2 separate regions of the Homo sapiens genome follow, and region 1 is linked to region 2. The links come from fine-mapping of genetic effects on gene expression. A gene starts in region 2. The other region holds a variant in brackets. All regions are shown on one strand. Distances are between the middles of the regions. Region 1 has its middle 15 kb from the start of ARHGAP17. Region 2 holds the start of LINC02175 (long intergenic non-protein coding RNA 2175).

Region 1 (5,488 bases), 36 kb after region 2:
CCGTGAGTTCCAGTATGTCTGGCAGCACGTCTGTCTTGTTCTTGGTGTATTCCCATTACTGAATCCCCACCAACCAGCCCAAATAAGGCCCTGGCACAAAGTAAGCTCTCCATTTTTGTAGAATGAATGAGTGAATAAATGGAGGACACTCAAGCCTCATGTTTTCTCTTTCTGACACATACCTGTGCTCCCTACGACCCCACCCTCACCATCACACCCTTAATAGTGGAGACTTAGTGTGGTACTGGCTTTTCAAACAGGTATTATGTGGCCCTAGACAGGTCATTTCCTTCACTGAAAGTCATCGCCTGAGTTTCAGGTGCACAACGGGGATCATACCTAAAAGAGAGAGAACCTCCACCTCTCATCCTCATAATCTACGGAGACAGTAGTTAGGTGCATCATGTTTGTCTTTCTAGCAGCGTTTAGCTCCGAGAACGCCAAGACCCCGTCCGCCTGGTTCAGGGGCCTGCTCCCATCCACAGTACCCAGGCTTGCTCCAAGCCTGGCTCACAGCAGGAGCTCAGAAACGATTCGTTAAATAAATGAAGCCCTGTTCTGTGCATTTCACAGGTGGGAAGCGAGGGTCGTGCGAGGCGGGGGCAGCAACCTGCCAGCCTCCGAGCGTATTCTTCAGATGCAGGCCCGCCTCCCACCTCAGCCCGCGTCCCAGATGCCAGCCCCGAATCCCGCGCCCGACAGGCGCTTCTTGCACAAGGAAGCATCTTCGCAGGTGCAGCCCACGCCCTCGTCGCCCGCGTCGCAATTCCAGGTGGAAAAGCAGGAGGTGAAGGAAGACTCCCTCTGTCTAGTGGCCATGGGCGTGGAGGTTCCGGGGAGCTGTGTCCGCCAGACATGGAAGTGGGGTCGACGGGCGGTAGGGGACGGCGCTAGTCACAGGCAGAAAGCAGGAGAGGAAAGTAGGGCTCCACCTGGCTCAGCTGGCGCGGCTCAGTGACACCCCGGAGGCCGGCTGCCCCAGCAGCCTCTCCGCCTATTGGCTCCTCTGCCTAGTCGCTCATTGGGCAATTATCCCTTCCTCTCAGCCTACAAAGGTACTCATTGGATAAGTTTTTTGGCCCCGCCCACCCAACCCGGAAGTTTGCCGACGGAGAAAGGAAACTAAAAGTCAGTGGCGGAGTACCGCGATGCTTTCTGGGAAGTGTAGTCTTAGGTGCCTGGAGAGGCCACCAGGTTTCTTCTGACTCGTCACGGAATTTTAAGGGCAGAGAATCCAGCCAGAAGCAAATGTCAGCTGTTACGTTCAGTCTGGGCTCGTTGTCACTCAACAGTTTAACAAAATTTTGTTAAGTGCTGTCCATGCCAGGGACTGTGCTAAGAGCTTTAGAGACATAATCGCCTTTGAAATGTAGTAAAGGAAGTAGCGTGTGGAAAAGTAATAGAATGGGAAACCACGTGGCAGTAAAAATCAATGAACTCGAACTCTCAGGTAGCATCAAGGGCTGAATTTCAGAAACGTGATGTTCAGTGAAAGAAGGAAGTCTAACGACACTTTTGTAAAGTTCAAACCAAGTAAAACTAATGTTGTTTAGAGAAACATACATATACGGTAAAATACTGTACAGAAAAGCCAAGACATGAGAAAAAAAAAAAAGTCAGGACATTGATGACCTCTAGGGAGTGGGACGGTAGCATACGAGAGGGTAGGGAGAGGCAGGGAAGGAGCACATAGACACATTCTCAGTTTCTCAGGTGGGAGTGAGTTCACGTGTGTCTGTTTCATTATGATGCATATTCAAGATGCATCTATTTTTACTAGTTTTGTTATAAAATATTTTATAAATAAAAGAAGAACTATGCTACTGTATTCCACTTGATTATCTGTCAGGTGTTGGACACAGGCAATGGGTATACTTTAAGAACTTTGAATCACACCTATTTAAAAAAGCAAAATAGCTCTCTCTCTTCTGCCGCCACGTAAGATGTACCTGCTTCCCCTTCCACCATAACTGTTAAGTTTCCTGAGGCCTCCCCAGCCATGCAGAACTCAACATCCTTGCGACTGGGGGCCATTATCTTAAGTGAAACAACTCAGACACAGAAAGTAAAATATGCATGTTCTCGCTTCCCTGCCTACAAGCTGAGCAGACGCCAGCACCATGCTTCCTGTAAAGCCTGCAGAACCACGAGCCAATGAAACTGCCTTTCTATATAAGTTTTTTTTTTTTAAAGCAAAATAACAGAAACCCAGAATATACACCTTGGGGTGAGATCAGATAGCAAATGCTTGCTTAGTATTCAGTGGAGACACAAGATCTCATTGACAGTCAAGGCAGAAATGACAGTGGGGAATGGCTGAGGTTAGGAAGTTTTGCCAGGGATAGCAGCAATGGGCTGAAATACACCATTTTGTTGGAGCATTCCTCTACCAAAAAGGTAATACAAACCACTGCGCAAGCATTGTCTCCCAGCTTGGCAGTGTCTAAATTCCATGGGTGTTAGTGGATAATGTCAAACAGTAAGTAGCACAAGATGTTAATCCCACAGGTCTGGACGGTGAGACTGAAGGTGACTAGAAGAAGGTGGAGGCAGATGTATTGGCACACCTTTGTTATTGGGTGAGCCTTGATTCAAAACAGCTGGTAATTCAGGGAAATTTGGTTAGTTGGACTCTAGACAAAGTGAACTTACTGGGTGTGGACCACGACACTAGTAGATTGACTGGCATTCTCTGGAGGAGGAGGATGGCTACCCATAGAGCAGGCTGCTGGCCTCCCTTTCCTCATAACCTCTGAGAAGAGTCACATGTGATCTGATGACAAAAAAACCCTGTAACTTGAGGGAATTTGGACAGGGGTGGGGATACCCTTAAAACACCTGGAATCCAGCCAGGCACGGTGGCTTATGCCTGTAATCCCAGCACTTTGGGAGGCCAAGGTGCACGGCTCACCTGAGGTCAAGAGTTCGAGACCAGCCTGGTCAACATGCTGAAACCCCATCTCTACTAAAAATACAAAAATCAGCTAGGTGTGGTGGCGGGTGCCTGTAATCCCAGGTACTCAGGAGACTGAGGCAGGAGAATCACTTGAACCTAGTAGGTGGAGGTTGCAGTGAGCCGAGACC[G/A]TGCCATTGGACTCCAGCCTGGGTGACAAGAGCAAAACTCCATCTCAAAAAAGAAGAAGAAGAAGAAGAAGAGGAAGAGGAAGAAGAAAAAGAAGAAGAAGAACCACCTGGAATCCCACTAAATTGAAACATGGTACACTGTCAGCCCAAGTGGCTACACTTCAGGCAGTAAGCACTGAATGGCTATCTTAGTCCATTTTGGCTGCTATAACAAAATATCATAAACTAAGTGACTTATAAACAAAAGAATGGCTGGGCACAGTGGCTAATACCTATAATCCCAGCACTTTGGGAGACTAAGGTGGGAAGATCACTTTAGCTCAGGAATTCAAGACCAGTCTGGGCAATGTGGCGAAACCCCATCTCTACAAAAAAATTTAAAAACTAGCTGGGTATGGTGGAGTGTACCTGTAGTCCCAGCCTTGGGACTGGGCTGAGATGGGGAGGATCACTTGAGTCTAGGAGTTCAAGACTACAGTGAACTATGATTGCACCACTGCACTCTAGCCTGGGTGACAGAGAGAGACCCTGTCTCAAAAAATAAATACATATATACATACATAAAAATAAACCACGGAAATTTATTTATCATGGTTCTGGAGGCTGGCAAGTCCAAGGTCAAGGCAGATTCTGTGTCTGGTGAGGGCCTGCTTTCTGACTCATAGATGATGCTGTCTTGCTGTATCCTCACTTGGTCAAAGGAGCGAGGTGTCTCTCTCAGGTCTCTCTTATAAGGACACTAATCACATTCATGATAACTCTGCCCTCGTGGCCTGATCGCTTCACAAGAGCCCCACATCCTAATACACTGGGAGTTAAAATTTCAGCATTTGAGTTTCAGGGAGACAGAAACATTCAGACCACAGCAATGCCCTAGCCAACAAATGACTCCATCTCCATATTTATAGCAAACTCTTGGGCCATTGTCTAAGAATTGTTCCCTTTGTGCTCATAAAGAACTCTGGGAATCTCTTGCCTCATAAATACTGAAAATATAAACCGAGGTAATAGATAACTCATGTTTTTAAAATGGTCGGGTGTGGTGGCTTATGCCTATAATCTCAGCACTTCGTGAGGCCAAGGCAGGAGGATCACTTGAAGTCAGGAGTTCGAGACTAGCCTGGCCAACATGGCAGTCTCTACTAAGAATACAAAAATTAGCTGGCTACCTGGGAGGCTGAGGCATGAGAATCACTTGAACCCAGGAGGTGGAGGTTGCAGTGAGCTGAGATTGTATCACTGCACTCCAGCCTGGGCGACAGAGTGAGACTCTCTCTCAATTAAAAAAAAAAAAAAAGATATCTCTACATCTACGTATACAAAGGCCACAATATAAGGTCTCACTGTGGCACTCCATATACTCTTGGAAGTCCTACACATTACTGGTAGTGATCAGGGTACTTATTTCACATCTCAGAATCCACAGTGCCTCATGGGCTCTTGGAGAAGGCATTAATAGAACCTTCCACTTCTCTGATATCCCCAAGCAGCAGGCTCGAGAGGCATACGTGCTCCTGGAAGAACTCTTATTTAAGTTACAAAGTGGAAAATGCACATCATCCCTTCACACCTCCACTCCTGTTTCCCTGTCACCACAGTCATCGATTAGTCACACCTCAGCGGGGACCCACAATTCCTATGCCAGTGCCACACAGGTCCCTCAATTGCCTGTATTGGCCAGCCTGGGGGACATCTGTAAAGCTCATGTTTTTGAAGACTACCTCGCCCTGTGGTCCTCTTTCTCGTGGTTAGGTGCTAAACCCAGGAGGTGGAGGCTGCAGTGAGCTGAGATCGTGCCCCACTCCACTCCAGCCTGGGTGACAGAGGGAGCCTCTGTCTCAAAATAAATAAATAAATAAAATAAAAGTAAAATGTTTCTAGTGCAAACTTTGTTGAAGGCATCACCCTGCTATGATTAGGCTTATGGGTTTAAAGTTATTTGGGTAATAGTCTGTTTGGGGTTTGCAAGAAGTGACACGTGGCTGGAGGGTGGTCTATGAGTAGAAAGCAAGGCTCTAAAGGCAAGTCCTCAAATACCCTGTTAAAGTTTGGACTCCAGGCAGTGGAAACTCCTGAAATAATTTAAAGTAGGTAAGCAACGTTATCAGATTTTCATGCCAGAAAGTCCACCCTCATGGCGGTGTGGGGAATGGATTCAAGGGAGGCCAGGAGTGGAACCAGCAAGGTCAGTAAGGAGTCAATTGCCCCAGTCCATATAAGGACAGGAAGGAATGGACCACAGACATGGGGACAGGGAAAAGAGGAACAAAATGTGATATATTCATTGGTTCATTGGATATGAAGGGGGTGTGAAAGAGAGAGAGAGACACAGCACTTTGTTAGGCCGAGGAAGGCAGTTCACCTGAAGTCAGGAGTTCGAGACCAGCCTGGCTAACATGGTGAA
Region 2 (5,214 bases):
ACAGGCAGGTGGGTGGTGACAGCGACCATGACCACGGGTCAACCTGGGCCTCAGACACTGGGGAAAGGTGGCCATGTCCAGTTTTCTCAGGAAATTAGGAGGCAGGTCATCCGAGGAGAGAGGGTGTGTCTGGGGTAGGGTGGAGTAGCTTTCAGAAAAGTGTAAGTCTGGCAAAAGCACTCAGGAAAATGGGACAGAAAATGAGCCAAGCGCTGGATGGCAGCGTTCATTCAGCCCAGCTGAGCTTGGAGGCCATGAAATGCTGGCAGCCCCACACTGCAAGACTGCAGGGTCTTTCTGGGCCACGCCCCGAATCCCAGGTATGGAAGTGAAGGACCCAAAAAGAGGAACGAATCAGGCTGTTATTCTGCAGAACAGGTGAAAGAAAAAAGCCAAGTAGACAGAGCCTTGGAAGTCAAAGAGTCACCCACATGCCTGACCCAGTCAGAAGAAAGGGGACCAAGCCAGGGCGGGAGGGACTGTGTGGGAAAGAGGAGGCTGAAAGGAGGAGAGACCGCGGGCAGAGGTGGACAAGGGACCAAGGTGAAGACCTTTGAGGTGCTTCTTGAACCACAGTGGTGAATGTCTTTCTGGACAAGAGTGCCAGTGCCCACCGCCATCACAGGACACAGCCCCATCCGCACTCCCGGGACAGCAACATCTCATTGTCCCAAACTCTGCCAATTTCATCAGTGAAAAGTGGAGCCTGGAAGCTTTGCATTTCTTCAATGACTTCGAATTTTTTAAAATGGTCTCACAGATTTCCTGGTCATCGGTATTTCATCTGAAAAGTCTCTTTCTGTGATATCTGCTCATTAGAGCGGAGTTCTTAAAATTATTAGAGAGTGTTATACATTCAGTATATTCACCTCTGTGGTGGTTGCTCTCAGTTTTGTCCAGTTAGTCATTCATCATAAATTTAACTTTGATATCATAATAAAACAGACAAAAGTGTAGTTATTATGTGCTTAAATCTACAGGTGCTTTTTTAAAAAGTTCTTTTTAGAGACAGGGTTTTGCCCTGTCGCCCAGGCTGGAGTGCAGTGGCGCGATCTTGGCTCACTTCAGCCTCCACCTCTTGGGTTCAAGCCATCCTCCTGCCTCAAACTCCAGAGCAGCTGGGACTACAGGTGAAAATATCACAATTATATGTTAGAGAGAGAGAGAATGAATCATTGTAAAACAATGAAAAGGTGAAGAATGTCTGTTACCTGTGTAAGTAACATCTACATCAACCCTCACCTGAAGTTCCTCACCTCTTCCCTTGCTCTTTTCTTCAGCCCAAACACGGTGTTCAACGTTCTTCCCAGTCACCGCCCAAGGCCGCTGTCTTAGCCCTGCCGTCATCACCTCTCTGAGCCTACTGCAGTAGCTTCCTATCTGGGTTCCCTTTCCATTCCTCCCGGGTCCCGACTCCATCGGCTGCCAGTTGACTTCCCACAGCACCAACTTTTCTCAGCCTTCTGCCTATGAGAGCTCCCCAAATTCTACCACGGGAGCCCTCAAACCATGATCCTCCCCAAAACGTGAACAGCAGCTTCTCGAACCATGGACAGATGGCACAGATGACAACCGAAGCCAATCACCACTGCCTGTCCCTGGAAGTGGACGCTCCGGGTCATGGGTGGCCATGTATCTCGGTCCTGCTATCCTGGGTGGTTGGAGGAATTCTAGCAGTGAGAGTTGAAAACCGCTCGGCGCGCGGCAAGAGAGGATGAAGCCCGAGTCTGACCTGGGAAGGGAGCTGCTCCCCGGGCAGTGGACCCCAGGGCTGGCGGGGAGGCGGCCTCGGTCAGCCCAGTTGGTCTCGGGCCGCTGGGCCTCAGCCCCCAAGCCTGGTGCCCGCTGGCCCCGGAGGAGCTGTCCCGCCCCCTCCGGCACTCGCCTTCCGGGGCTTGGTCGGCTAGCTGCTTCACGCGCGCGGGCTGGGGGCCCCAACGGCGGACGAGCGCTGCTCCCACCGCTCCAGCGCCCAGACTGTAGCGGCTCCGCCTCCGCGGTCCGTTGGCCCCGCCCCCACGTCTCTTCCGGGGCCCCGCCCACCCCCTTCGGGCCCGCCCAGCACGGCCTCCCCTTGTGGCCTGGAGCCCCAGGCCGAGGGCGCAGAGACCAGAAGGCCGAGCTGGGCGGCGACCCCCGTTCTTGCCCGGTCACTTCCTGCGGCGCCGCCTGCCCGCTGGCAAACTGTGGCTGGGAGACCCTTTAAATAGAACGTATTAGCCAAAACTAGAAGAGCAAAATATGTACCATGTTTCAATTTAATGGGATTGCCAGGTGTTTTAAGGGTCCGCCGCAACGGTCCCTCGAGTCCCGGGGTTTTTGTCCCCATCAGATCATTCGTGGTGTGGATCTTCCGGGAGGTTATGGGAAAGGGAGACCAGCAGCCGGCTCCGTGGGCGGCCATACTGCTCCCCCAGGAAGGCCAGGCAAATCTTCAGTGCTGGGATCCCCCTAGTACGTTCATTTTGTCTAGGGTCCAGGTGGGGCCATCGAGCCCCTTGCCCACAGGATTGGTCCTTTGGCATGCAGATAAGCAACACCGCCAAGAAAAGCCCATGGGGTCTTTAGGCTGTTAGGAGACCACCAGGGAGCCATTCCTAAATCTTCCCAGGTGATGGTTCCAAAAACCCTGGTGTTTGGGGAAAGGAAAAAGGGTTATCCACAGGACTATGCTGGAACACTTTCCCAAACAGTGTCTGCCTGGCTGTCCCAAGCAGCCGGTGATGGAGCGATGGTCATGAGGCTAGACCAAAGACCACAGAGTCTAGCCTCACTCTAGTGGAACTCAGGCACCCACCCGTTAGGATGTCGTGTTGCTGCTGCCCCCAGGTGGGAGCCTGGGAAACCACCTGGCCGACACGGGCCACACCTGATGGGACCTCACAAGGAGATACAGTCCATTAACGTTCGTCAGGGTGGGAAGAAGTGGCAACACCTACTGAGATAACAAAACTCATTAGCTGAAGGGCAAGCTGGCCAGCAACTGGCAGTGATGTTCTCAATAGTCCTGGCCGCCTTATAAAACCAGCTACTTAGGCCGGGCACGGTGGCTCACTCCTGTAATCCCAGCACTTTGGGAGGCTGAAGTGGGTGGATCACAAGGTCTAGGAGTTCAAGACCAACCTGGCCAGTATGGTGAAACCCCGTCTCTACTAAAAATACAAAAATTAGCCTGGTGTGGTGGTGGGCGCCTGTAGTCCTAGCTACTTGGGAGGCTGGGGCAGGAGAATCGCTTGAACCCGGGAGGAGGAGGTTGCAGTGAGCTGAGATCGCGCCACTGCACTCCAGCCCGGGAGACAGAGCAAGACTCCGTCTCTAAATAAATAAATAAACAAACAAACAAAACCAGCTACTTAGTAAAGGAGCAGCTAGTTAAAGCTAACCAGGGGTCCTCAATCAAGGATGGGCCACACTGTTTGTGATGCCAATCGTTTTATTCACACTCTTTACTCCATTGATGAAAGAGGGATTCCTTCCCCCCACGCTCCTGCCCCCGCCCCTGTCCCCACCCCCAGAGATACGGGGATGGCCGAACACACAACACTTGATGCAGGACGGATGCAATCAACAGCAGCTGACTGGTCACAGATACTCCAGTCCAGGGGAGAAGGACCCTGCACACTATGCAGGGCAATGTGGAGGCTACACTCCGGAACACGGTAACAAGGAGGGGCTGCTGGAGGCAGGCTTTGTAGTAACAAAAGTGCAGAGTGAGCCCTGGTTCCCACGGGAGGGTGTGACTGGCTTGTCTGAATAATTCGTCCTTGAGCTGGCAGGGAACTGAAGCCTACTGTTTGGGGATAAGCAGGCTCTGTGTCTGATCCCTAAAATAAGGAGAGTGTTTAGCCAGAGAATTTCATCTGCGGAAGCAGACAGGGAGCGAGGCTTGGAGTTCAGCCATTTGAGGCCCTCTTGATTTAAATGGATGTAAAGACAGAATTTGATATGAATCCTAATTTCAGGCCTTACACCACAATACACTATTAAAAAGTAAGTTTTCCGAGAACTAGTCATTGAGTTCAGTGTCACAAGATTTTAAATAAACATTCTAAACTCAACTGTGGCATAGTGGTTCACGCCTGTAATCCCAGCACTTTGGGAGGCCAAGATGGGAGGATTGCTTGAGCCAGAGGTTCGAGACCAGCCTGGGTAAGATGGTAAGGCCCTATCTCTACAAAAAAAATATATAAATTAGCCAGGTATGGTGATGAGAGCCTGTGGTCCCAGTTCCATGGGAGGCTGAGGTGGGAGGACCACTTGAGGCTAGGAGGTCAAGGCTGCATTGAGCCATATTCACGCTGCTGGGCTCCAGCCTGGGTGACAGAGTGAGACCTCATCTCAAAAAATAAAGAAAGAAGATAATTTCACCTATTGCTTAACATAGAAAATGGGAGCCCTCAGAATGAGACTCCCTTAACTTCCCCAAGAAACTTAACCATCCTTTTTTACTCTTACAGTTGTGAATGTCCTCCAGTAAAGACCACATGAAACACTTTGTAGTTAAGCAAGTTGGGTTTATTACTTGTTGCAAGGAGGGAAGACTCACACCATGAGGAGCCTATCAGTAAGAGGATGTTAGACCTTTAGGATCTGGGCTTTGGCTGGGTGATTTGGGGGAGGGTCCAGGGGTTTGCTCTGGATCGAGTGCTGATAGGAGGTAGGAAAATTCTATCATCCGGTAGCGGTATCTTTTCTAGAAAGAGGTTTGGCTGGAGTAGGGCTAAAGCTACAATGTGTAAAGAAGCCACAGTCACTCCTATCAGCTGGGAGAAGGGAATGTCTGGTATTCTGTGGGTGGCACAGTGACCTTGCTTTTGTCCTTACACAGAATGATGACGTGGTCTCGTGTCATCTCCTATCATCACCACTGCAGAGTGTCCTTGTGTGAGTGGTCTGCATGATTGTTTATGTCCAATAGGAGAACAACATGGCCTTGTTGTGGGCACCAGCCAGCTTCCAAAAACATACGGCCTGGCTCACAGCACCAGGCAAGCTCCTAGAAGTCAGTTTTGCTTTTCTGTTTTTCACAGTGGAGGAGGTGAGCCTTAAAGAGATCGATAAGGGTTTGCCCGGCAGAAGAAAACAGCGTGAGCAGAGGCATGGAGTCTGCAGTAGAACTGCATGTTAGGTGAACCTGATATAGGGTCAGGAGGGGTAGCAGGAGAGATTTCTGGACAGGCTTTCACACAGTGAATCGTGGAAGCTCCCCCAAAT

Evidence for each region. PIP is the estimated chance that this variant, and not a neighbour inherited with it, causes the effect.
Region 1: its variant is the best candidate, but not a certain one, in a credible set for the expression of LINC02175 in cultured neurons (Aygun 2021, PIP 0.74).

What each region holds. Positions count from the first base shown.
Region 1 is chr16:25,027,212-25,032,699 of GRCh38, reverse strand. It overlaps the pseudogene LCMT1P1. Among named protein-coding and RNA genes, the nearest start is that of ARHGAP17, 15 kb to the right of the region's middle. RefSeq lists an enhancer at 1,054-1,233. The variant G/A (reference allele first, on the strand shown) is at 3,085.
Region 2 is chr16:25,063,689-25,068,902 of GRCh38, reverse strand. LINC02175 (long intergenic non-protein coding RNA 2175) reads right to left here and starts at 2,016. Exons shown (of 2, transcript NR_135197.1): 1 at 1,257-2,016; 2 at 1-1,124. RefSeq lists a silencer at 1,724-2,113.